Homo sapiens: one gene and its partners. The protein of the gene in region 2 interacts with the protein of the main gene of each other region in a pairwise test. Each region holds a gene or a part of one and is shown on either strand. Other genes may lie near its edges.

Evidence for each region.
Region 1: the proteins of KRT76 (region 2) and CFAP206 interact in binary tests that used the Homo sapiens proteins (3 or more experiments, as listed by UniProt).
Region 3: the proteins of KRT76 (region 2) and IQUB interact in binary tests that used the Homo sapiens proteins (3 or more experiments, as listed by UniProt).
Region 4: the proteins of KRT76 (region 2) and TSGA10 interact in binary tests that used the Homo sapiens proteins (3 or more experiments, as listed by UniProt).

What each region holds. Positions count from the first base shown.
Region 1 is NC_000006.12:87,410,900-87,418,040, forward strand, and holds part of CFAP206 (cilia- and flagella-associated protein 206), read left to right. Parts: intron 1-2,910; coding exon 2,911-3,001; intron 3,002-4,786; coding exon 4,787-4,975; intron 4,976-5,769; coding exon 5,770-5,928; intron 5,929-7,141. UniProt on the Homo sapiens protein: Essential for sperm motility and is involved in the regulation of the beating frequency of motile cilia on the epithelial cells of the respiratory tract. Required for the establishment of radial spokes in sperm flagella.
Region 2 is NC_000012.12:52,774,272-52,781,282, forward strand, and holds the start of KRT76 (keratin, type II cytoskeletal 2 oral), read right to left. Parts: upstream 3,075-7,011; 5' UTR 3,021-3,074; coding exon 2,421-3,020; intron 1,332-2,420; coding exon 1,117-1,331; intron 1-1,116. UniProt on the Homo sapiens protein: Probably contributes to terminal cornification.
Region 3 is NC_000007.14:123,451,632-123,454,675, forward strand, and holds the end of IQUB (IQ motif and ubiquitin-like domain-containing protein), read right to left. Parts: exon of another isoform or gene 1,301-3,044; intron 1,295-1,300; coding exon 1,112-1,294; 3' UTR 562-1,111; downstream 1-561. UniProt on the Homo sapiens protein: Adapter protein that anchors the radial spoke 1 (RS1) complex to the A microtubule of outer doublet microtubules in axonemes. The triple radial spokes (RS1, RS2 and RS3) are required to modulate beating of the sperm flagellum.
Region 4 is NC_000002.12:99,151,821-99,159,174, reverse strand, and holds the start of TSGA10 (testis-specific gene 10 protein), read left to right. Parts: upstream 1-4,232; 5' UTR 4,233-4,482; exon of another isoform or gene 4,483-4,851; coding exon of another isoform or gene 4,852-4,884; intron 4,885-7,354. UniProt on the Homo sapiens protein: Plays a role in spermatogenesis. When overexpressed, prevents nuclear localization of HIF1A.

The DNA of each region.
Region 1 (7,141 bases), on a different chromosome or scaffold from region 2:
ACCCTGCCTCTAGGCAGAAAGAAGGGGGAAAGACAAAGGGCAAAATATGTGTGCCAATTGGGTCTATCACCTTCTATCCAGAAAATAATAATTTTCCCAGAATCCCTCCCATCTACTTAACATTTATTGACCAGAATGATATTGTAAGTGACCCAGGGACATTTCACTTCTTTTTTCTTTCTTAGATGAATAAATCCTTGCCCCAATCCAAATTGAGGCTCTGTTAGTAAGGAAGGAAGGGCAGGGAAATTGGGCAGGTAGCAGCATCTGCTACAGTATTTTAGTGAAACCTTGTTACTAATGTCTTACATTGCAAACATTAACTAGTTCGTCATATACTGTGAAGTTAAATAGAACTAAATTAATTTGCATTTCTCTAATGCTGAGTGATGTTGAGCATTTTTTTCATGCTTTTTGGCGATTTGTATGTCTTCTTTTGAAAAATATCTATTCATGGCCTTTGCCCACTTTATAATGGGGTTATTTGTTGTTGTCGAGTTGTTTGAGTTCCTCGTAGATCCTGAATATTAGTCCTTTGTCAGATGCATAGTTTGTACATATTTTCTCCCATTCTGCAGGCTGTCTTTTCACTCTGTTGATTATTCATTTTGATGTGTAGAAGCTTTTTAGTTTATTTAAATCCAATTTGTCTATTTCTGTTGCATTTACTTTTAAGTCATGAATTCTTTGCGTAGGCCAATGCCCAGCCCCCTAGGTTTTTTTCTGTTATTTTTATAGTTTCAGGTCTTACATTTAAGTCTTTAATCAATCTTGAGTTGTTAATTTTTGTATATGGTGAGACATTGGGATGGGTTTCATTCTTCTGCATATGGTAATCCAATTTTCCCAGCACCATTTATTGAATAGGATGTCATTTCTCCAGTGTATGTTTCTGTTGACTTTGTCAAAGATCACCTGACTGCAGGTATGTGGCTTTGTGTCTGGATTTTCTATTCTGACAATGAGATACAATCTTACACCAGTTAGAATATCTTTAAAAAGTAAAAACATAACAGATATTGGTGAGGATGCAGAGAAAAGATGGTATAAAGCTTGTTCTTAGCAATAGGGGAAGTGATTGTGGCAGTCAGAAATTTTATTGGAAAGCCGTGGAAGAGAATCCAGGAGGGGCAGAAAATAAGTTGTTCTCCTTGTCATGACCCAAGAAGAGTTTTCCATTCCCCCCAATTCCCCAACTCAACTAAGTTGGAAAGAATCAAGCCAATATACTTTTAGTACGACAGGTACATAAACTAACAACATATGTTATATTCAAGTGACAATTTTTTTCTCAACTAAAAATCATGTGGATGAGCTATTTTTTTAAGTGTGCATTTTAGAACAGTACTTCTGTATGTGGAGGGATCCAGGTGCACAGGCTTCTGCAAAGACATAGTGTCCAATCCTCAGTCTTGCATTCTCCCCTCCCTCCTCCCAGGAAAGCAGGGCTGGTGCTCAGGGAGATGGGTTGAGAGTGATGCTGCCAAGTGCCTGCCAGCTGCAGTATATTCAGCCTACAGAGTGAGCAGTGAAGGAAGTGGGGGAGGGAGGTGACCAGTAGAGATGAGAGAAGGAAAGAAAAACTGAGGTTGATATTCAATATAAAGAGGCAAGGCAGAGAAGGGGAATGAGCCATCTATGTGGGGGCTCATAGGAGAAAACAGACCAGGAGAAGAAATATCAAGGGTAGAACCAGAGAAATTTTGTGAAGAGAGGGGGGTGGTTGCAGCAGCTTTTTAATTTTAATTTAATTTAATTTAATTATATTTTATTTTTTGAGACAGAGTCTCGCTCTGTCCCCCAAGCTGGGGTGCGGTGGCATGATCTTGGCTCATTGCCATGTCCACCTCCCGGGTTCTCAAGCGATTCTCCTGTCTCAGCCTCCCGAGTAGCTGGGACTACAGGTGTGTGCCACCATGCCTGGCTAATTGTTGTATTTTTAGTAGAGACGGGTTTCACCATGTTGACCAGGCTGGTCTCGAACTCCTGACATCGGGTGATCTGCCCACCTCTGCCTCCCAAAATGCTGGGATTACGGGTGTGAGCCACTGCACCAGCTGCAGCAGCTTTTTATAAAATAAAATGAGGAGTGTTGTTCAAGGCACAAATAAATAGTAATGAGGAACTCTAGAAGAGTTTTAGACTGGAATATAAGCTTTGTGGAACATTTACCCACATTTAGACTGCTCAAACTAACCAAAACATCAGGTTTCTTGCCTTCAACTAGACTACTAGCCACCTGGCATGATGATTATTGGTTAACTCAAGGGAAATAACTTATTACTTAACAAATGTTATTGGTAGTAAAGATATGGAATCAACCTAAGTGTCCATCAACAGATGATTGGATAAAGAAAATGTATACACACATACACACAATGGAGTTTTATTGAGCCATAAAAAATAATGAAATCATGTCTTGTGGCAACATGGATGGAACTGGAGGCTACTATCTTAAGTGAAATAACTCAGAAAGTAAAATACCACATGTTCTCACTTATAAGTGGGAGCTCAATAATATGTACCCAGGGACATAGAGAGTGGAACAGTAGACATTGAAGACTTGGGAGGGTGAGAGGGGAGCGAGGGATAAGAAATCACTTAATGGGTACAATGTCCACTATTCAGGTGTTAGCTACCCTAAAAGCCCAGGCTTCACCACTACACGCAATATATCCATGTAACAAAATGACACTTGTACCCCCTAAATCTATAAAAATAAAAAAAGTTATTGGTTAAATAAACTATAAAGCCTGAAGTCCTCAAGGAGAAAAAAAAAATAAAAGGGGTTATTGGTGAATCAATATCAGGAACCACTGCTTTTCCCTTTATTTTTGAAAATAACTTTAGGAAATACTTGACTGTCTCAAAAACTATAACTAGAAGTATTCATGGGACATTCTTTTCTAGCTTTGTATGACTCGGCTATTGGATACTAAAAATCCATCCCTGGACACTATTAAGATGCAAGTCTACTTCGATATGAATTATACGAATCGAGGTAATGTATACTACCTATTTTTATACTTAAAAAATTTCATACTGTGTTTCAGCTAAGAAGGGCTTCATTTGGTTGACAATGAATTTAATTGTTTAATCAATTTAACAATTTAATTTTTGGCAATCAACTTTGAGGAATACAACGTTAGAAATGCTAAATGAAAAAAAACCATTGGCCTTTGTGAGTGTTAAAAGTGAATTCCAATTATTGTGCTCATAATTATTGTTTCCAGTGGCACTAATACATAATAATTAGGAATTCAGCCCATTGAAGTTAAAAGTTTTTAATTTATAGATTTTCTTGTTCCTGGTTTATGTTATTATCTCATTATAATTACCTAAATTATGTAACTATTCAAAAATGAACGATGGGGAGTTTAAGTTTAGAAAACGTTTCAATATGTAAATTTTTTTTGAGACAGAGTCTTGCTCTGTCACCCAGGCAGGAGTGCAGTGGCACGATCCACAGATCACTGCAACCTCTGACTCCCATGTTGAAGCAATTCTCCCACCTCAGCCACCCGAGTAGCTGGGACTATAGGTGTGTGCCACCATGCCCAGCTAATTTTTGTATTCTTAGTAGAGACGGGATTTCACCATGTTGCCCAGGCTGGTGTCGAAATCCAGGCCTCAAGCGATCTGTCTACGCCTTAGACTCCCAAAGTGCTGGGATTATCAGTGTGAGCCACCATGCCTGGCTCATTATGTAAATAATTTAATGCATACATCAAAGACAAGTTGGAAACAAAAGAAAAAGGAAAATGTAATTCTCTATGGACTGCCTCTGCACCTGCTATATAAAACAAGTCTATTTCTCTATGGACTACCTCTACCTCTACTGTATAGTACAATCATTATTAACAATTTGGTGATGTTTCTCTTTGTTAGTTTCAGTTATGCTACCTATGTAAAAGTATATATCTTGCGTTTTTGCTTAATAGTGAAATTTTAAAGCAAGAAATAGTCATATAATTGATAAAATTTAACCTATAGATTTTTAAATTTGTTATTTAAACATATTTTTAATTTGCAAAAAGTTCTCAGTTGGTTTTGTGGCAAGGGTATAGGTATAAACTGTGCGTGGTGGATATGTTAATTATTGACCTTGTAATAGTAATATGGGTTGTCTTATAGAGTCATTGCAGAATTGTACTTGCAACAACTCAGGGAACATAGTGTCCTGCCAAAGTGAAGCCTGTCCCTCAGCATATCACAGGAGGAATGAGGAGGGATACAGTTCTCGATGCAACATCGTATTATCAATAATGCTTTTCAGAGGAAATTTATCTAGAACTGAAATAAAAATACACGTAACCGAAAGGAACATATATACTACATATATATTTCTGCTACTATATATGCTTATGTATAGTATACTACATGTGCTTACATATAGCATAAATATATAATATGTATATATTTATTTTTTCATATAGTATTAAAATTAAAATATATAATATATATTTTGTAGAAATGGTCTTCTTTATTTTCTGCTTAATTGGGAGGTTTTAGCCTTTTCTGATATCTCCTGTTTAGTTTGGCTGTTTAAAGTCTTAGGTGTTTTGACAAAGTATTCCATTTAAGTCACTGTAATAAATCTTCCCTCCTGGATTTTTGTCTTGAGGCTACATGCTGGCCACTGTTTTTTATTTCATTATTACAGCTTAAGAAATTACTTGTTTTCCTGAAGTAGAATTGCCATATCCAATCCAGTTTTTCTCTAGTTCTTACGTAAGAAGAATTCTAAAAATTAAATATATAGAACATTGTTATTTGGCAATTTTAGTGGAATTTCTCGAAGAACATCACCGGGTCCTAGAGTCTAGATTAGGCTCTGTTACCCGAGAAATTACAGATAACAGAGCATGTGCTAAAGAAGAATTGGAAAGCCTCTACCGGAAGATTATCAGCTATGTGTTACTCCGCTCTGGCCTTGGATCCCCTACAGACATCAAGACTGTCAGAGAGGTAACAGGTAAAAAGTATAACCAATTTCCATTTCATAAGTGAAAATATATGGTCATTGTATTTTATAAAACATGTTAAATTAGAAGTGTTAAAGATTGAAGTTCCCTTTTTATCTGAAAAAAAAAAAAAAATCAGCACAAATGAGTTAAAATGTACCCAGTCTCCTTTTACACTGTGTATCCATTCTAAAACTCAAGTAGCACCTCTAGAAAGTGAAATATTGCTAATTTTCCTAGAGCTGTACATATCTAGGCACCTATTACACCCCATTAGAGAAACATTGATAGTAGGATTGAGGGTACCAGGCTGATTGAGTAAATGGAAAAGCTGAAAACGGATATTTCATATTGATGAAAGAAATTGAGTCTGTCATTTAAAATGGGTGATGGAATGGGGCACCATTTTATCCTTAGGAAGTCTTTGCCCTCTTTCATCCTTTAAAATGAGGAATAGGAAAAATGTCTAGCTCTCCTATGGCTTTCTTCCATAATTATTTTAAAGCATCCATTTTTTGGCTCAGATCCCTAATTAGAAAGCTTGTTTTCATGCCCATTGCCAAAAAGTTACTGCTGGATGCTTAATTATTAAAAATGGACATGAGGCAATGGCATAACTCTCAGTAATCCAGCTTTGATGCGTGATAAGTTTTATTATGTATCCTATAATCAGGTATCAGTAATTTAAAGAATCATATAAGTAACTCAGACCCTTAACTTGCTGCTAAAGAAAAACGTTATTTAACGTCTGATATCTTTATTCTATCATTTTGTTTTCCTTTTTTTTTTTTCTGGTTTATTTTAGCTGCTCTACAGAGTGTTTTTCCTCAGGCAGAGCTTGGGACATTTCTAACTCTTTCTAAGAAGGACAAAGAACGCCAGCTGAAAGAACTCACCATGATTGTTACTGGAATTCGTTTATTTAACAGAGACTGTGGAAAAGGAGGAGAAGGCATTGATGATTGTAGGTATATCATTAGATTAATTCTAAAGGTTATGTATGTTTAAAATTTAACTTGCACAGTGAGGAAAATAATAAACAACACACCACTGGCATTCTTAAATTTAAGATTTGCATTTTTTACTGTTTCCTTAAGAATAACTACTGTTTATAATGTGTAGTGATTTTTACTTTTGCTGGGGCAAGACTTTACATTTTATGTACCATGAAGCTAGTAGGAGAAAGTGAATCAGTGAAAGCAATGAAGGGTCCTGCTCAAAGCTAACCTCCCAGTTCAGCAGGGCTTTGTGTTCATTACTGCAAGTCCGTAACCAAAAGGGAGTACAATTTAGTTATTTAAAAAATAAAAATCTTCCTGAAAACAGTTCCTGGTGCAGTTAATGGAATGAAAAGATCCACGAGGAGATATTTCAAATCTCTAAATTCGGGGGCATTTACTTTGTGGTTATATACTTAATGCATTCTTTATAAGTTTGAAAGTACTTATGAAATATTTAATGAAGTACCTACCAGTAGAAGTAACTTCCTTATGAAATTTGGTACTCCTGTAGGCCCACTGATAAGGTGTTAGTGTCTTTCACCAAATCACTAATCTAGTATAAAAGGGTAATTTTTTCTATTTTAAAAACTGTTCTAAAAAGTCAAATTTCCATTTTCATAAATGACCCTCCCTTGCTAGACTATTCTGTCATTTTTCACCATCCAGATGAGTTTCTTAACAAACGTTCCTTTTTTTTTTTTTTTTAATAACTAGAAAAGAAGATATACAAAAGGAAGGGTCAGTGGCTTTTCTGGAAGCACATGGTTAACAACACATAATACCAAACTCTGCCTATTCTCTGAACTCTTCTATATTTAGTGGCAAAAGCTGACCTACTGTAACTGGGTTATCATTCTGTTAATATCTTTTGTTTGAACTTGTTTTAGATTCTTTTTTTTTTTTTTTTTGAGATGGAGTTTCGTTCTTGTCGCCCAGATTGGAGTGCAGTGGCGCGATCTCGGCTTACTGCAACCTCCGCCTCCCGGGTTCAAGTGATTCTCCTGTGCTGGGATTACAGGCATGCGCCACCACGCTCAGCTAATTTTTGTGTTTTTAGTAGAGACGGGGTTTCACCATGTTGGCCAGGATGGTCTCAATCTCTTGACCTCGTGATCCGCCCGCCTCGGCCTCCCAAAGTGCTAGGATTACAGGTGTGAGCCACCACCCCCGGCCTAG
Region 2 (7,011 bases):
CAGTCAGTGAGAGGGCAAACTTCAAGGAGCCTGACCACTTGCCTAGGCTCTTTGATTGACTTTGCAAAGCACAATGTGTGCATATGGAACCCAGTGAAATGTGTGCTCTCATTGGGCATTTCTGCCTATTTCCTCAGTTTCTGTTTTCCTTCATTACAGTTACTTCTTATAGGAATTTCAGTTAAGAAAGAATTCATACCTTCTGAATGCATCAAAGTTGTGGGATTCCTGCCTGTTAAGGACTAAAATCTACTACCAAGAGTTTGTATTTCATAAAGCTTGAGGAATTGGACTGATTCTAGGAGAAAAGAGGTCTCTAGGCAGGACCTCTTTTTTTCCTCTAGGAGAAAAGAGGTCTCTGGGATCTCTTTTGGGAATATGAATCTGAGTTGCCACTGAATTCCCAGAGCCCAGCACAGAGCCTGCCACAGAGTGGGTGCCCACCACGTTTGTGTGGTTGAATTGGAATAGGGCCTCTGCAGAGCAGGTGTGCCCGTCCCTGTGGGTTCTGATCCCTGGGGAAGTCGGGAGCTCCCTCCCACCTTGAGAGGCCCAGTTTGCTCCTTGCAGACCTCAGCGGATATGGACTGCAACTTGGAACGTGGAGGAGGAGGCAAACCAAAGCTGCAGAACAGGAGATTGGACGGGACACACTGATAAAGGCCTTTACCAAGTGCAGCCCTGGACCTCTGCCTAGAATCCCCAGGAGCTAGGGGAACACTCACACTCCTGGGGCCTGTCCACACCTATGATTCAGAATACCTAAGACTGGAATACAGGAATACGCATTGTTGACAAGCATCCAAGGTGATTCCTGTGTCCAGTCAAGTGTGGCGGACTCCCCATCCTAAAGGATTCTAAACTCTGGGAGGACTCTTTTGTCCCTCTGGGCTGGAATAGGAGGGGGCCCATCTGGAGCCTGAAATCTGTGTCATAGCCACATGGGAGTCTCAGTCCCCACCCTTTCACCCCCTTCTGCTTTGTCATGTTTCACTCAATAAATCCATCCCAGAGTATTGACTGAAGGCACAGTTGGGAACAGTTGAAATCCCAAATTAGGACCACACCTCCCTGCTAATTCCCCAGAAGGGGAAACTTCCCAGGAGGAGCCCTCACTTCTTTTTGAAGTCTTCCACCAGGTCCTGCATGCTTTTCAGCTCTCCCTCCAGGTTCCCCCTCTCCCCTAGAAGTGAATCTAGCTGCTTGCATAGGAAGCTGATGTAGGATTCAAAACAAGGCTCCAGGCTGCTGGGCCCTGAGCCTGTGGTCTGCTGCTGGAGCAGTTCCCACTTGGTCTCCAGGACCTTGTTCTGCTGTTCCAGGAACCGCACCTGCATGAAAGAGGGGAGAAAAGGAGTCAGCCCCTTGAGTTGGGCATGTGGGGCTGCCCATCCCAAATGTAGAACTGTGGAGAAGGAACCCAGTTCTTCAATCTACAATTTCCCCTGTTTTTTAATTTGGGAAGGATGAAGATTTAGCAAAGGGAGAGCTAGAATTTGTTGAGTGATTATGCCTTACCTGTTATTTTCATGTATTTCCGTCACATTTAATCCTCACAACCACCTATAAAGGAGTTGCTGTGATCCCCATTTTGTAGATAAGGAAACTGAGACTCAAAGAGTTTAAGTTTCCCAAAGTGACAAGTCTACTGAGTGACAAAGCTAAGAATCAAACCCAGGACTGTCCTGGGTCTATAGGGATCCTTCAGAATACCACTGAAGGAGGTAAGCACAAATAAAGTTTGTCATTGTTTTTTAGATGTAAGCTTTTTTCAGCTCCATAAAGGCAGTGAATACAGTCAATGAGGTCTAACATTTCTTTAGAAGTTTCACATAGGAAGACCTCCTTTCAGTTATTCAGCTTGCAGCTGAACTAGAATTCACTTCAGATCCTGGGCTCAGTCCCACACAGACCCAGAACACCCTCCTCTGCCCCAGCATGGACAGCTCAGTTTAATTATTGGCTGAAGCACAGCATCATCTGGAAGGTAAGGCAGCTGCCAATGCACCTCATTTAGATGCAGCCTCAAGATCTGTGCTAACACAAGGTTTTGATTACCAGCTACTTTGGATTATCAAGCAATTGCTTTTCAGGAGAAATTAAAGTAACTGCAATAATTTCATGACTAAAATGGCTCATTCTTCAAAAAGCTAAGAGCATGTTTGGACCCCCACTTCATTTACCCTCATCTCATTCTTAGCAGGAAACCAGGACCAGGAATTCTTCCCCCCATTTCACAGCTGGAAAAAGAAGGCCCAAAAAGTGAAAGGGGCATGATCACTGTCCTGTAGGGACCAAGACAGCACCAGGACAAGAGCCAAGCGCCCCTGCCCTGTGTCTCACAAGTCCCCATGGCATCTTTCTACACCGACCCCTGGGCACCCCAAACCCTCCACAGCACCTCTTGGCCTTGCCCTCACCTTGTCGATGAAGGAGGCAAACTTGTTGTTGAGGGTCTTGATCTGTTCCCGCTCCTGGGCCTTTACTTGCCCAATCTGGGGGTCGATCTCCACATTGAGGGGCTGCAGGAGACTCTGGTTTACAATCACTTCCTGAATTCCCCCAGGAAAGCCCCCAGGGCCAAAGCCACCAGGACCACCAAAGCTGCCAGGCCCACCAAATACACCAGGACCACCAAAGCCACCAGCTCCACCAAAGCCACCAGCCCCTCCAAAACCACTACCTACTCCTCTGCCACCACCAAAGCCACCACCATAGCTGCCCCCAAAGCCACCTCCATAGCCACCTGCAAAGCCACAGCTGCTCCGCCCTCCCCCAAAGCCTCCAGCCCGGGAGCTGCCAGCTGCCACGCTGATGGAGATGCTCTTGTTGCTGCCCAGGTTGTAGAGGCTGCGACTGCCAAAGCTGCCTGCTCCGCTCCTGAAGCCACAGGCCCCTCCACCAGCTCCCCCAGAGCGGGCCACACAGCTCATCCTGCTGCTGCCGGAGACCACAGCAGAGCGGCCAGAGAAACCCTGGCTCCTGCCACTGAAGGATTTCTTGCAAACTTGTCTGTTCATAGTGAGAGAGCTTGGAGGCAAGCTAGTGATCACTTAGCAAGAGCTGAGAGGGATAGGGACAAGAGAGGAGACTGGCCTTTATATAACAGGGAGTTTGGCTTGGCAAAAGGAGAGGCGAGCAATTAGTTGAGAATCATCTTGGGTTTGGTTTGCCTCGTAGGCATTAAGTTACTTCTTGGTTCCCAACACACCTCAGAGATAATCCTCTGGGCCAGAGTGGCTTTGCTTTCTTAGCTTAATCACCTAAACTTGCCTCAGTTGACAAAATGCTGGAGCTCTCCTCCCTCCCTTTTTGTGCTGTCCTCAAGGGTTTCAGGGAACCCAAGCAGCACCTGATCCAGCAGGAGGAAGCAGCTTTAGACACCAGGTGATCCGGAGCCATGAGCTCCCTGACACAGGGGGGTGAGGACCAGGCAACCTCTTCTGAGTGGGCTGGGTCCCTCCCTGCAGCACCACAGTGTCCACAGGCTCCCACAGTGGCTGCGCCCGTCTCTGCCATCATTAGGCCTTTTCTTCCAGTGGCATGTCACCTGTTCCCAACTCTTCAGAGGGCCTGGAGTGGGAGCGGAAGTGAGAGGGGCCCAGACCCATAGAGTCTGCTCTGCCAGCACCTCAGCCAAAGGCATCCATCTCAGCAAACCTGGAGTTTGGGCTGAGAAATGCTACTTATGGGGAAGAAATTACAGTGGAGGTAAACACGTCTAGCTCCTGGAACAGGGAGCAAACAAGTATGAGGTTTGGGAAGAAGAGGGGGCATGCACTGTGGAGAGCCTCAGACCAAGCCCTCCCCCCACCATCCTAGACTGACAGCAGGCAATTTCTGGACCCAGAAGCAAGAGGAGACAGAATCTGGTAACCCTCCAGCTGGCTGGTAGAGTCGGCTCAAGCACCCCATTCATCTTAGGAGGACAGTGTATCTTGTGTCTAGGCCCCAACTCAGATCTTCTGGAGGGGATCCCCTCCCTGCTTTACCCCCTGGTCTGGGTCAGATGCCCCTCCTTGTCTTCCCACCATACCCTGTACTTTTCCCATCGTGAACCTGACATAAAGTATACTTACCTGCTTACTTGTCCATACCCCTCCGGTCCCTGAGCTTCTTGAGGGCAAGGCTTGAGTCCTGCCCATTCTAAATTATCCTAAATGTCCAGCTCCTAGCATAGGGTAAGCACAGCACAAACGTGTTAACTGACTGATGACTGATGTCTAAGAATGCAAATACCTAAAACCAGCTCCCACCCCAGCCCTATGAATGAAAATCTTCAGAGGAAAGGGTTGAGAGTTTGCATTTTTAACAAGCCCTCCAGGTCATTCTTATAATGCGGAAAGTCTGGGAAACCCTGGTCTAGACCATGGCTACACCATATGGGCCAGGAATAGGAGGATGGAGGACCCCTGATGGCAGAACGAATGACACATGATGAGTTACTGCTGTCACTGCCAAGAGCTCAGCAGACCCCAAACCCCATCCAACCCACCTCCGCACCCAAACACACCACACAGGGCAAGACCAAATCCTCAGGTTGTCGTCTGCATAGGAGATTTCACACATATGACAGGAGCAGGTGGCACTGATTCTAGACTCCCTGAGAAATTGGTGGGGGGTCTATCTCCAGAATTCCAGCCAAACTGGCAGTGGGCGCTCTGTCTTTCTGAGTTTCTGGTTTCTGAACAGTCCAGTCTAGGGGAGAGAATTGGTCTGAGAACCTTGGAACCACCTTGAGTTGAGTGACTTCAAGAGCTTTGCAGCTAATTCTCAGCTCTCTGCTCTGCAGCTTATCTGGCGTCAGATCCCAGATCCACTATCCACCAACTTTTAGGCCTTGGACAAGTTACTTAACTTTTATGTGTCTGCTTTATCAATTGTAAAATGGGGCTAAGAATGGCAAGTACTTTATGGGGTTGTTGTGAGCATTAAACAAGTTAAGTAAATATAAAATGCTTAGCCCAGTGCTTGACACATAGCAAGCACTATATGTTTAGCTACTTGCCAGTACTCTATTTGGGGGAATGGAGAAGCAATAACATGTTTGGCCCTGGCTGTTCTCAAGACAACTTTGCATCCCTAAGAAGCTCACCAAAGGTGAGGAAAGGAGGCTGAATAGGAGTGAAGAATTAGAAACCCAACTTGGGATAGAAAAGACTGAGACTTATACTGACTAGGGTTGGGTTGGGTGACCTTGTGCCACGATTTAACGTAAGTCTGTGTTCTAATCTGCCAAACACTTTCCTACCTTACTGGTTTGTGGTGAGACTTGCAGGATAATGTAAGTGAAAGTCCTTTGAAAATCACAAAATTCCACACAGGAGTAAGATAGCTGTGGTATAACAGAAAACCTGTCATCATCATGGAATTCCAAAGACCTGGGTTCAAATCCTATGTCTACCTCTCACTATGTGGTGACCTTGGACAAGGTACTTGACTTCTCTCTCTCCTTATTTTTAAAAGGTGGCATTGATCCTACTTGCAGGATTGTTTTGAAATTTAAATACATAGTATTCAGCAATATATGTTTGGATTTTTAAATTAACATCATTCATCCACAGATAATCCAGGAAGAGGATTTCATGTTGAGTTCTTCCATGAGACATTTATACTCCACCCATCAATTGAATGACAGCCCCTCCTGGTAAGGTCTTTCCTCATATCCTCTGGATCCTTTAAAAGCAGAAGATCACATGCTCTTCCTGGAAAGAAAGCTGAGCCAGGCTCAGCTGAAGCTCCAGGTGAGAGTCCGAAGCAAACAAGAACAGACATAAATGTCTCTGATTCCCTTCCCTCCCTTGGCTGCAGTACTGAGGTGGTGGGTGGCAGCCTCTGATGTGTGGCTCACCTCTGCCACCCTGGCCTAGGCTGGAGAAGCGTGGTGGAGAAAGGTGATGCACAGATCACAAAAGCGCGGGTTTGGGCTGGGTCGCCTAATCCATGTCGCATGAGCCTGCCAAAGCATCACCTTATTTAGCAGATGGGGATTGTCTTCTCAGCAGTTGAATGGAGCTGCTGGAAATACCCAGAGTTGCTATCCTCACCAACATTGCCCTCATTCACTGTAGGATCTTTCAGAACAGTATCTAAAGGGTCTGCCTACTGCCAGCAATCTGAGTTCCAATCCCTCACTGCCAGAACATTCTGTGTAAAGCTTGCCAGATGGCTGAGCACCCTGGATTTTTATTTCCCCACCTATAAAATTGGGGGCACTAAAACCAAGGAGTTATTCCCTCTAACCAAATTGCTCTCTGGTAGTCAACTGCAGTGAGAAGACTTCAGATTGCCTGTAACATAATTATGAGTGGAGGAATGCATCATGAGACAGTAGTCATTATCCTTGGCCAAAGTGAGCAGTCATCCCTCTCCACCACCATCTGCTGAGGATGAGGGAGCCATGGCTGCTGCCTCTTTCTCCATGGAGGTTCGCAGATCCCATTTTCAAGATAATCACCAATTTGTTCTCAAAAATAAAAAAAGAATAATTAACGTTCTGGGTATGCTGCCCCTGGACTAGGAATTAGCATTCTTTTCTTGTTGAAATAAAAGCTTGTCACTAGTGAAGCAATTTTAACCAATGAACAGTAAAAATAATTACCATATAGAGCAAGATTTATAGTGAAAGCTTGATAAAGAAGCAAACATCTAAGTACAACTAAGTCCTTATGTTACTAAGGTCTTAGCTGTTAGCAACCACAATTTGTTCTGATTCTGGTCTTATCTCTACACTTGATTAAAATACACACCAGCTCACCCCTCATTCTTTATCTGGTACTTGGATCTCTCCCAGGGCTTATGCAGGGCAGAATTCTATCTCCCAAGATGGCCCTGATTAAAAGGTTCTGTGATTACATAAATTTGGGAAATGAAAAATCTATAGCTCTTTCCTGGGATTTTAGTAAAGTTGTTTAGTATATTAAAAGCCCAAAGAAGTCCTATAGAAAATAATGTCTTTGCCTTAATTTAATCACAGCTTCCCAAATTTAACAACAAAATCTTTCTATCTTA
Region 3 (3,044 bases), on a different chromosome or scaffold from region 2:
CTTTTGGGTTTGGCCAGCGGGAAACCCAAGCAGGACATTGGAGAAAGGAAGAAGTATGAAATTGTATATTTCTCTAGTTCATGAGATTCCCCTATGCCTGGCCGTTCCCTTTACAGCTGGTCATTGATCCTTTCAGTTATCTTCTTTACACTCTTCCTGGGTTCTCAGACTTTCTCCCCAAGTTCATTTGAGACTAAAGGGAGAGATAGCCTGTCTGATACTAGCCCTGGGTTCCTGCACTATTCTTTTAGTTTCCCTACACACTACCCACACCTTATAATAAGGCCCTTTGTAAATAAACTCTCCTTGGCTTAAGCTATTTCGAGTGTGCCATCCATTTCCTGTTAAGACTGACTGGCAAACCATTGTTCATCACTGTAGGTCCCTAACTTATATGTGGTCAAGGTCACTCCTTTGGTTTATTGGAGAAGGGCGTTGTTATGGTTTATTTAACCAGTTTATTCTTCTTATAGTTTCACCATTGCCCACAGGGAGTTTTTCTTGCATATGCTAATAGCTCCATTGTTTACCCAGAATGAAGGTTTTTTGTTTATTTATAAATAGTTTCAAGTGTTGTTTTATTGGGATTATGAGAAGGATGGAAGGTGAAAGCAGACGATAAACTGCAAAGATTCAAATGCCTATACTAAAATATAAATTTTTTTATCCTACTTAAAGAAGTTTTCAAGAAAGAGCACTTTATAATGTTTCCTCCCCTCCACATACTGATTAGCTTCCTATAACTACATTCTATCTAAAATAAATAACTTGAAAGTTGTCTAGTTTTTATTTGGCTGTTTGTTAGATTTTAACTCTAATATACTTGAAAAAATTTAAAAAATTTAATGTGAAAACACATTTTAAAATGTTTTCTTTACCCCAAAATATTAATTTCAGTAACAAAATTGCATTTCAATTTAGCACCAACTTCCTAACAAAGAATACTTACTTATATAGAAATGTTTTCTCTTTATATAACTCAAAATACTATGAAAAACAAAAAACAAAATCAATAAACAGATTAAATTCCATTTCCATACTCTGTGACCTCTGTATTACCCTATTAGCAGTGAACAAAATGCCGATCATCAAACAAATACTCCTGGATCACCTAATGAGGAGGCCTCTGGGATTCTATAATCTTAGGTGTTGTGTCTGAGTGATACTTCCATCTGATCTCATCAATTTCACCATCATCAAGTATAAATGAAGCCAGCACTGGAACCTGAGAAAAATAGTTCTTAGCCAGGATATGTTTGTGTTTGATCTTGTGAATAAATGAGCGTTCATATCCCTGCAAAGAAAAAAATCAAATTCTAGTAAATATCACAGATATATTTTGCCAGGTAAAAATACTGTCATGCCTCGGTGCCTTTGCTTGTCAATTCTTTCATCCCAGACTACCTTTATTTTTCTCACGTTGTCTATCATCATTCACGACTCAGCTCCTATGATACTTTAACCTGGAAGTTTTCCCCAACTCTCCCTCTGACTTCTCTAAGTTTAAACCACTGCTAGTTATCAACTCAATATTCATTCTTTCTCCCATTTGAGCCAGAGGCCTGATTTTGTATAGGGTGTGATGTGTCTAGCTTTCTTAGCCCTTATTCTAACTGGGGGTATCTAGTTAGAATATATATATATATATATATATTATTAATGTTATAGATATTGAGGTGAGAAAAAACAAAAATAAAAACAAAACAAAACAAGGGAAGTCTGAGAAACTGTCACCACCAAGAAGAATCTAAGGAGATAACTAAATATCTTCCAAGATTATTTAATTATACACAATATATATAACCTTATATAATTATATATATATAATTGAATAAAGCCTTTGAAAGGGACTTTTGAGAGTGGGAAGACTCACCTATCAAGCACCTCTAGCCTTTTGCCATTACTGAGAGGTACATGTAATGAAGAAGATGAACTAGCTATCCTATCACTAAGAGCCCACCAAGCATGAGAGAGAAAGCTGAAGATTAAATATGGCTGAGGAAAAAGTGAGATGGCCTGAATTTCTGAGAACAAGGTGGAGCCACCATACTAGCCCCAAACTGCCAACCTTTGAACTTTCTTGTTACATAAGAAAACTAAACCCACATTTGATTAAATCATTATAAATTGCTTTTTCTGTTCTTGTAGCTGAACCTAAATGCAACTGAGACAACAAAAAGTTATATTCATTAAATTTTCTTGTTTCTCTGTAATTACTTAGTACAGTATTTGGCACATTCAAAAGTAAATTCTGGTTAAATTAATAAATATAATCTATTACCTATTAATCTTAATTGGCCCTCTTTTCAATCAAATCACAAATACTACCTATACTTCTTCCTAAAATTTATTTTCTGAGAATAAGACATTCCCTCAATAAAGGTCTCTTCAGAGGGTCAAATCAAAGATAAAAGAAAGTCCTGGGTGAAAGGACCAAAAGAGCAGAAAACATTATATAGGAGTATCCTGGGCTTATTAAAATTTCCTCTTAACAGAAAAATTTACTAGGTTAAAATATTCATCTTTTGAGCTAATCTAACTTTGTTTCTACCACTTCTTAGCCCATATTTCATTCAAGAAAAACTAACACACTTTATTATGCTATATTAACTTACACATGTACAGAACTTTATAGGTTTTCAAGGTGCCTTTACAGTACTATAAATTATTAAAGATGAGATAAATTATGATATATGTGTTCAAGGCACTAATAAGTAACTCTTAAATAACTGAATATATTTCCATATTATATTATTTATATTGTTAAGTAAAGCAAAGAAACTAAGTCTCAGAGTCATTTAATATGAAATTCCTGCTACAGTAAAAGTATATATACTTACATACACATAGAAAACTTCCAGAAGGATTTCAATAGATTATTATATACCTAAGAAATAGTAGTTATCATTGCAACATGGAGATAGGGATGGGTGGACATCAAGAGACCTTTTTTCCCATTGAAATAAGGTCCATTCTCTTGAAATAGCCATGTGATGGTTTTAAACTATGTTCACAAATTCTTTGGGTGTACAAATAGTTCTAAG
Region 4 (7,354 bases), on a different chromosome or scaffold from region 2:
AGGCGGATCACGAGGTCAGGAGATTGAGACCATCCTGGCTAACACAGTGAAACCCCGTCTCTACTAAAAATACAAAAAATTAGCCGGGCATGGTGGCGGGCGCCTGTAGTCCCAGCAGCTCTGGAGGCTGAGGCAGAAGAGTGGTGTGAACCCGGGAGGCGGAGCTTGCAGTGAGCCGAGATCGTGCCACTACACTCCAGCCTGGGCGACAGAGCAAGACTCCGTCTAAAAGAAAAAAAAAGAAAAGAAGGTGAACCTGTCCTTGCCTTCAAGAAACAAGTACCTCCACAATCTAGTGGGAGATACTAAAAAACAAGTAAGGCAATAATTAAAATACAGTGTCCTAAATGCTGTGATAGGTGTTAAGTACAGTAGAGCGCCATCTAATGCTCTAATTAGTGGATGTGACATTGAAGCTGAGACATAAAAGGGATAAAGAAAAGAATTCTAACAATGTGCAACAGCTTAGTGGAAAAGGAGATAGGACCCATGCAAATAATTTAATTCTACTGGCTGGTTATTAGGAATACAAGAATGGGGAGTTAATAAGAAGGCAAGAGAAGTAGATGTTAGATTATAAAGAACCTTAAATCCAAGTGAAATGCTTGAACTTTATTGCCCAGGATGGAGTGCAGTGGTGTGATCACGGCTCACTGCAGCCCCGACCTCCTGGGCTCAAGCAATCCTCCCCCTTTAGCCAGCATGTGCCACCACGCCTGGCTATTTTTTTTTTTTTTTTTTTTTTGTAGAGATGAATCTCACTTTGTTGTCCAGGCTGGTCTCAAACTCCTGGGCTCAAGCAGTCCTCCTGCCTTGGCCTCCTAAAGCACTCGGATTACAGGCATGAAGGCTTTGGATTTATACTTCAGGGACACCGCCTAGAGATTTTAAGCATGGAGAATGTACAATACTTGGCAATAGGTTGAATTAGGGTGAGAGAAAGAGAAGTCAAGCATCATGTCCTTTATGATATAATGATTACAAGCTCAAACCAGAGTGCCCTCATTCAAATCCCAACTCTATCCTTTATCAGTTGAATGACCTAAGGCAGATTACTTTTCTATGTCTCAGATTTGTTATCTAATATGTGGATAATGACAGGACTCATCTCATATTATCAGGCTGAGTCTGATGAGCTAATACATATAAAGTGGTTAGAAGAGTGCCTGGCACTGAAGAAAGTACACAATATGTGCTAACTATTTTATTAATATTATGCCCTGATTTCTGGCCTGGCAAAGAGGTGAAATTTCCTAGGACAGATTTTATAGGAAGAGGAAGTATGGGGTTAAGATAATTGGTTCATTTTGACTGTTGAACTAGCGGCCAACGGCACAGAGCTCAATGGATGGTAACTGAGGCCACAGGAAGGTGGTTCAGTGAGAAGATTTAAGGGCCTGCGACATAAGACTGAAGAGCAGCAACATTTAACGGACATACAGAAGAAGGAGGGAGAGCTCCCAAAGGAAGCTGAGGATAGAAGAAAAGGCAGAAAAATTTTAAATATGCTATTATGGAAGCTTCAAGGAGACAAGATGGTCAACAGTGCCAAATGCCAAAGATTGAGCAAATAAGATGAGGGTTGAAAAGGATCTATTAAACAGTATCAAGAAGGTTATCAGTGATCTTGGTAAGAACCAGATGTACTGAGTAAATAGGAGGCCCAAGGTGGATACAATGAGGGTATTCTAGTTGTGAAGTGGAAAAGCTAGGGCAGTAGGTAGAAAGGAATGTGGAGTTAGGAGAGGACTTAAGATGCAATAGATCTGAGCATGTTTAGATGCTGGTAGGGGAGTCAAGAGAGGGCAACACTGGAGAAGGGAGGTCCTTGAGAAAGTGATGGTACTGGGATCCAGAGTTCAGGTAGGGGCAGCCTTAAAGGAGAAAGTAACAAATAGGAGTGGTGGTCACTAATAAGCTGGATGGTGTCTGTGGATATGGAAATTGTCAAAGATCTTGTGAAATATCTTTTCCCAAGATTAAGGCTCTTACTCTTGTCTGCATGTGCAGAGTGTGGCAGGATGGCAAAGTAGTTAAGGACTTAAATTTTTAATCCTGGCTCTGCCACTTACTAATGACTTTAGGGAAGTGGTTTAACCTCTAGCTGCTTCAGTGGCCTCAGACGTCATAAAATGGTTGAGAGAATTAAATGTGTTAATATGCATAAGCCATTCATGTTTGGCAAATATGAAATGTTAACTGTTATGACAGGGTTCTCCCTTTCCCATCTCTATTCTGTGCTTACTGTTCCTATCATATACCATGTATTCCCTCAAGTGAACAAAGATTCCTAACCAAGACACATCAAAGTGGCATTTACCTTGATAAATTAACTATAGTCCAAGATATTGACTTTGGTCAAAAATGTGATCTTGTTAGGGTTCCAGAATTGATCCAATTCATGTATTGAGCCAATGCATGTATTTTAATAGTGCTAAAAATATCTCTCTTCATCCAGGTATTGTATATACAGTGTGAATAAAACACAACAAAGGTATTAATTCAACAAAGTTTTCATCAATTACATGACAGACATTGTTCTTAGCACTTGGGAATCATCAGTGAGTCAAATGAATAAAGGTGATAAGGAGGGCTATTAAAAAAAGTAGATGGCCGGGCGAGGTGGTTCACACCTGTAATCCCAGCACTTTGGGAGGCCAAGGTGGACAGATCACCTGAGGTCAGGAGTTTGAGACCAGCCTGGCCAACATGGTGAAACCCCGTCTCTACCAAAAATACAAAAATTACCTGGGCGTGGTGGCAGGCGCCTGTAATCTCAGCTACTCGGGAGGCTGAGGCAGGAGAATCGCTTGAACCCGGGAGGTGGAGGTTTCAGTGGGCCGAGATGGGCTGGGCAACAGAGCGAGATTCAGTCTATTAAAAAAAAATGTAGAGCTGATAAAGGGAGGATTGTAACTGTGTATGTGAGAAAACTTACATTGCAATTTTAAATAGGGTTGTTAGGCTAAGCCTCATTAAAAAGGCATCATGTGAGAAAAGATGCAAGAAGCTGTTCTAAGCACCTGAACACGTAAACCAATAAACAGACCTCAGTGAGGATGTGACATTTCAGTTGAACCCCGAAAGATAAGAAAAAATCACACAGAGTGAGAAAAAGTGAAAACAAAGGGATGTCCAAAAATCCCTGACTGCCAGCTTATTGATTTACAAAGAGAACTATAGACCATCTATCAGATATTCAGATGAGCCTGTGCAATTATTCACTGTAGGTCTGGTGACAAGCCAACTCTTAAGTTTGCTTGGTGAATACATAATCAGAAAAGGACTGAGTTACATGATATGAACGTCTGACGGAATGGGCTCTGGGGAAGACACTTCCTTAACTCAGGAGAGCCCCTGCTCTTAAGCCGGGATACCCTCTCTCCCCTAGAGAAGGCGTGGATTCATCTGGCACAGGTGTGCCCCTCTTTTTTTATTCTATGCTCCAGTAGCGGATCAGACCCCGACTGAGTAATGCACGGTATTTCAGGATATTTCACAGTCGTTGGGATAGTGTCAAGCCTTTGAAGTTCTGGTTAAATTTTGTTCCTTCAAAATCACTTTGAATCTTTCTACTCTCACCCTTTAATGACTAATTTTTTGAAGTTTTTCCTCGGAAGACTTCCTTACCTTCCATGTTCTTGGGACACTTCGCTACCTCTGCACTGCCAAACACGGCTCCCCATCACTGAACTGAAAGCGAAAACAGCACAATCCCATCTATCTTTCTAGGCAGGCGCAGCTTCTTCATAAGACCTCGCCAAGACCCTATTATTTTGTCCCCTCTCTAATGATATACAACTTACTCAGAATCTCATTACGGTCGTGTGCATGTTTTACTTCGCCCTTTTGGCTCCCAGGGGGCGTGCACACAGCTAGCGTCCAACATGTTTTACGATATTTACCCTCCCTCCTGTGTTCGGGATCAACCGTTCCTAACAGTGAAATTAGGTCGTCCCAAGTGCTGAGGAGAAAGTGTGCACACAAGAGGCTTCAACACCGGCGGAGGCGACCCGCAAGTCCTGACCCACCGCCAGAAACACCGCGCGCGCCCAAGACCCCACGGCCGCCCACGCGCTACGGCCCGCAACATCCCGGTTTGAAGCGTTTCCGCTTCACCCACCTGCGGCTTCCGGTCGTACCCACGGCCTCGTGAGGGCTCGAGCTGGAAAAGTGCGTCATACGACCCCGAGCAACCGGCAGGCCTTGCGCGCGATGCTGCCCCGCCCCCTGAGGGCCGGCCCCCTGAAGCGCAAGAGAAGGAGGGGCGCGCAGGGATCGCGCCTAGTCTCTCCGCCTGCGGAGCCGTGGGGTCCCGGCAGCCCGCAGGAGTGCTAAGTAAGGGTCCTTCAGGGCGGGAACCAGGTTCCAGGCAGGGACGCAGGCTACGTTCGAATAAAAGTACCGAAGGTCATAAGGCCCCAGTTCAGATGGGACTTCCCCGCGTGACAGCACAGAGATAACGGCCAGCCCTGGGCGAAGGTAGGAGAGCGGGCGTGCCAGGTTGGAGGGGTCATTTCGTGGAGCGAGTTTAGGGGGAGCCCCCAGAAGCCCAGAGCAGTCAGGTCACACGACGGGCAGGAAGGAGTACCAGCAAATACTTTTTATTGAGCATACAGGTATTACGCTGGGTCTTTACATATCTCCTCCAAATAAGTGAGTCCAAATGGCAGGTAACTCGAAAGGTGAGAAATTCAAGTCAGCTTTGAAAGACACATTGCATTTAAAGGAAAAACGGTATTCGCAGATGATAATACAGGATGGAGTGGATCAGAAAACACACTGAGGCTACTGATCATTCCCATTTGCCAACTCACTGCAGTTGGCAAGAAAACTCTGTGACTCCATGAGATGGGAAATTACACCAGCAGTCAAGGTAGCAAGGTAATAGTTTCGGCTAAGTTTTGCTGCATAACAAACTGCCTCAAATAGTGGTTTATATCTCTAACGTGGGCAAGGTGGGTGATTCTTCTGCTAGTTTCTCCTGGGCATATTCATGTGGCTTCATTCAGCACAGGTTGGCTACGCTGGGCGGTCCAAGATAGCCTTATTCATGCTCTGGCAGGTGCTGCCTGGCTGCTAGGGCATCTCAATTCAGGCCTAATCTTGGAAGCAGCGCCTCAGCCATATTCTATTGGCCAAAACAACAACAAAGCCAGCCCAGAGTTAAGGCGTGGGGTAATGGACTTCACCTCTTGATGAAAGAAGCCCAAAGAATTTGTGGTCACCTTTTTCAACCTTGCACAGAAATTAATCTCTCCTTCAGTTAAAATAGAAACCACTAAGACTTGCCTCTTGGAGTAAGAATCATTCAGTGTTCAGTTTGCTGATGCTGATACGGTAAATGACCAGGGCTTCATATAAAGCTACAATGAAGACATAATGACACCTCCTTTCTTTATTATCACACCTTTTACCAAGGTCACTCTGAGTAAGTCTATCTTGTATTATGCAGGTGGGAATGAATTTTGTTCAGAGTTAACTGCACTAGGAATTTTCCTAGTTATTATTAAAAACAGTCACAGAATATTGTTGCTCTTTGCTTATATTACTTCCTTCTAAATTCCCTTTCTCTGAAATCTGAGATGGTACAACTTTGGTTTTTTTTCCTAGTTTCTTGATGAAGAGGTTTTAAAGAATCCCATTCCCTCCTCCCTGCTCCAGGACTTCTGTCCCTTGGTTATTCTTACCTTTACCTACTTCTTCAGCTTCTCCACTGGAACCTTTCAAGTGACACTCAAACATGCTGTACTCTTTAACAATCCTCCAGTGACCTCATTTCTCTTTCCACTTGTCATCCTGTCTGCTACCCTTCTGAGCCAAGCTTCTTGGAAAAACTGCTATACATCCAGTATCTACTTTCTCACTTCCCATTCATTGTTTCAACGTACTCCAAAATGGCTTTTCCCCATTATTCCAGCAAAAGTGCTTTTGCTAAGGTCACGGGTGACATTCATATTGCTAGATCCACTGGACTTTTCAGTATTCATCTAAGTGTTCATTTGACTACCTCAACCTGGAGATTCCTGTGGACAACTTTGACATTACCCTGTCAACTCCTCAGTCCCTTTTGCCAGGTTTTCCTCCAGCCTCACTGCCAACTCCGCAGTCCCCTTTGCCAGCTACCCTGATCTAGTCAGCCCTAAATGTTGGAGTTCCTCAGATCTTTATCTCACACTACATTTTCCTTAAGCAATTTCATTCATTCTATGGCTCTAAGTACCATTTCTGTATACAACTTCAAAATTTATATTTTTTAGTTCCATAGATACAACTGCCTTGTAAACCTGGTAAGTCTAAAAGCCATGCTCCTGAACTCACTCTTTCCCCCCAGGGATCCTGCATGCATAAAGGCTAAAGCCTTTTTTGCCAGAAGCCCTTTCTTCTTCCTCACTTTCCGCTTCCAAACCATGACTACATCCTGTCAGACTTCACCTGGACTCTATCCCCTTCTCTCCACTTTTATGACCATCACCATCATTCACTTAGACAACCATGTCACTGCAAAAGCTATAAATGTCCTCAGAGGCTGCTCTATGGAGTAGCCATTCTGTTTCTTTACTTTCTTAATCAACTTGCTTTCAAAAATGTCCTGAGATACGCTTTCCCATTTCCCACGTTAAAATCAAGTTTATGGCCCAGTGGGAGGATCACCTGAGGCCAGGAGTTTGAGACCAGTCTGGGTAACATTGTAAGACTCTGTCTCTAAAAAAATACAAAAACATGCTGGGTATGGTGGCACATGCCTGTAATCCTAGCTACTAGGAGGCTGAGGCAGGAAGATCGCTTAAGAACAGGAATTCGACACTGCACTGAGCTATGATCGCTCCACTGCACTCCAGCCTGGGCAACAGAGTGAGACCATCTTAAAAAAAATCAGTTTTATGTGGTATGTCTTGTGTTGTGTTATGTCCCTCTGAATGCTATACGTTTCTTCATGGCATATCACAATTTGCATCTTATATAATTACTGTATAATCTCCTGTCTTTCCTAGTAGACAGGCACAAAACTCTACAAGGCACTGGCTATTTTATTCACTACTGTATCTCCAGCACCAAGCACAGTGCCAGGCTAGGTGAACAAATGAATGATTTATGTATTTTTTTTCTCTTCTAAAGAATTACGTTCTGTAAATAATAAAAAGCATTGTCTTTTTGGCTTATGTCCCATTCAACAATTGTTTTTCACTCTCAATATTCCCTACAAACACATTTGTTTAGTATTTTTCTGATTAATAAAATATAGCTTCCCCCCGGAAAAGATGCCCTTTCCTCTTTTAAAATGAATATTAAAGAGATTTCCAACTACCAGATATTTTCATAACTGATATACAAAACAAGGTTTTTAAACAGG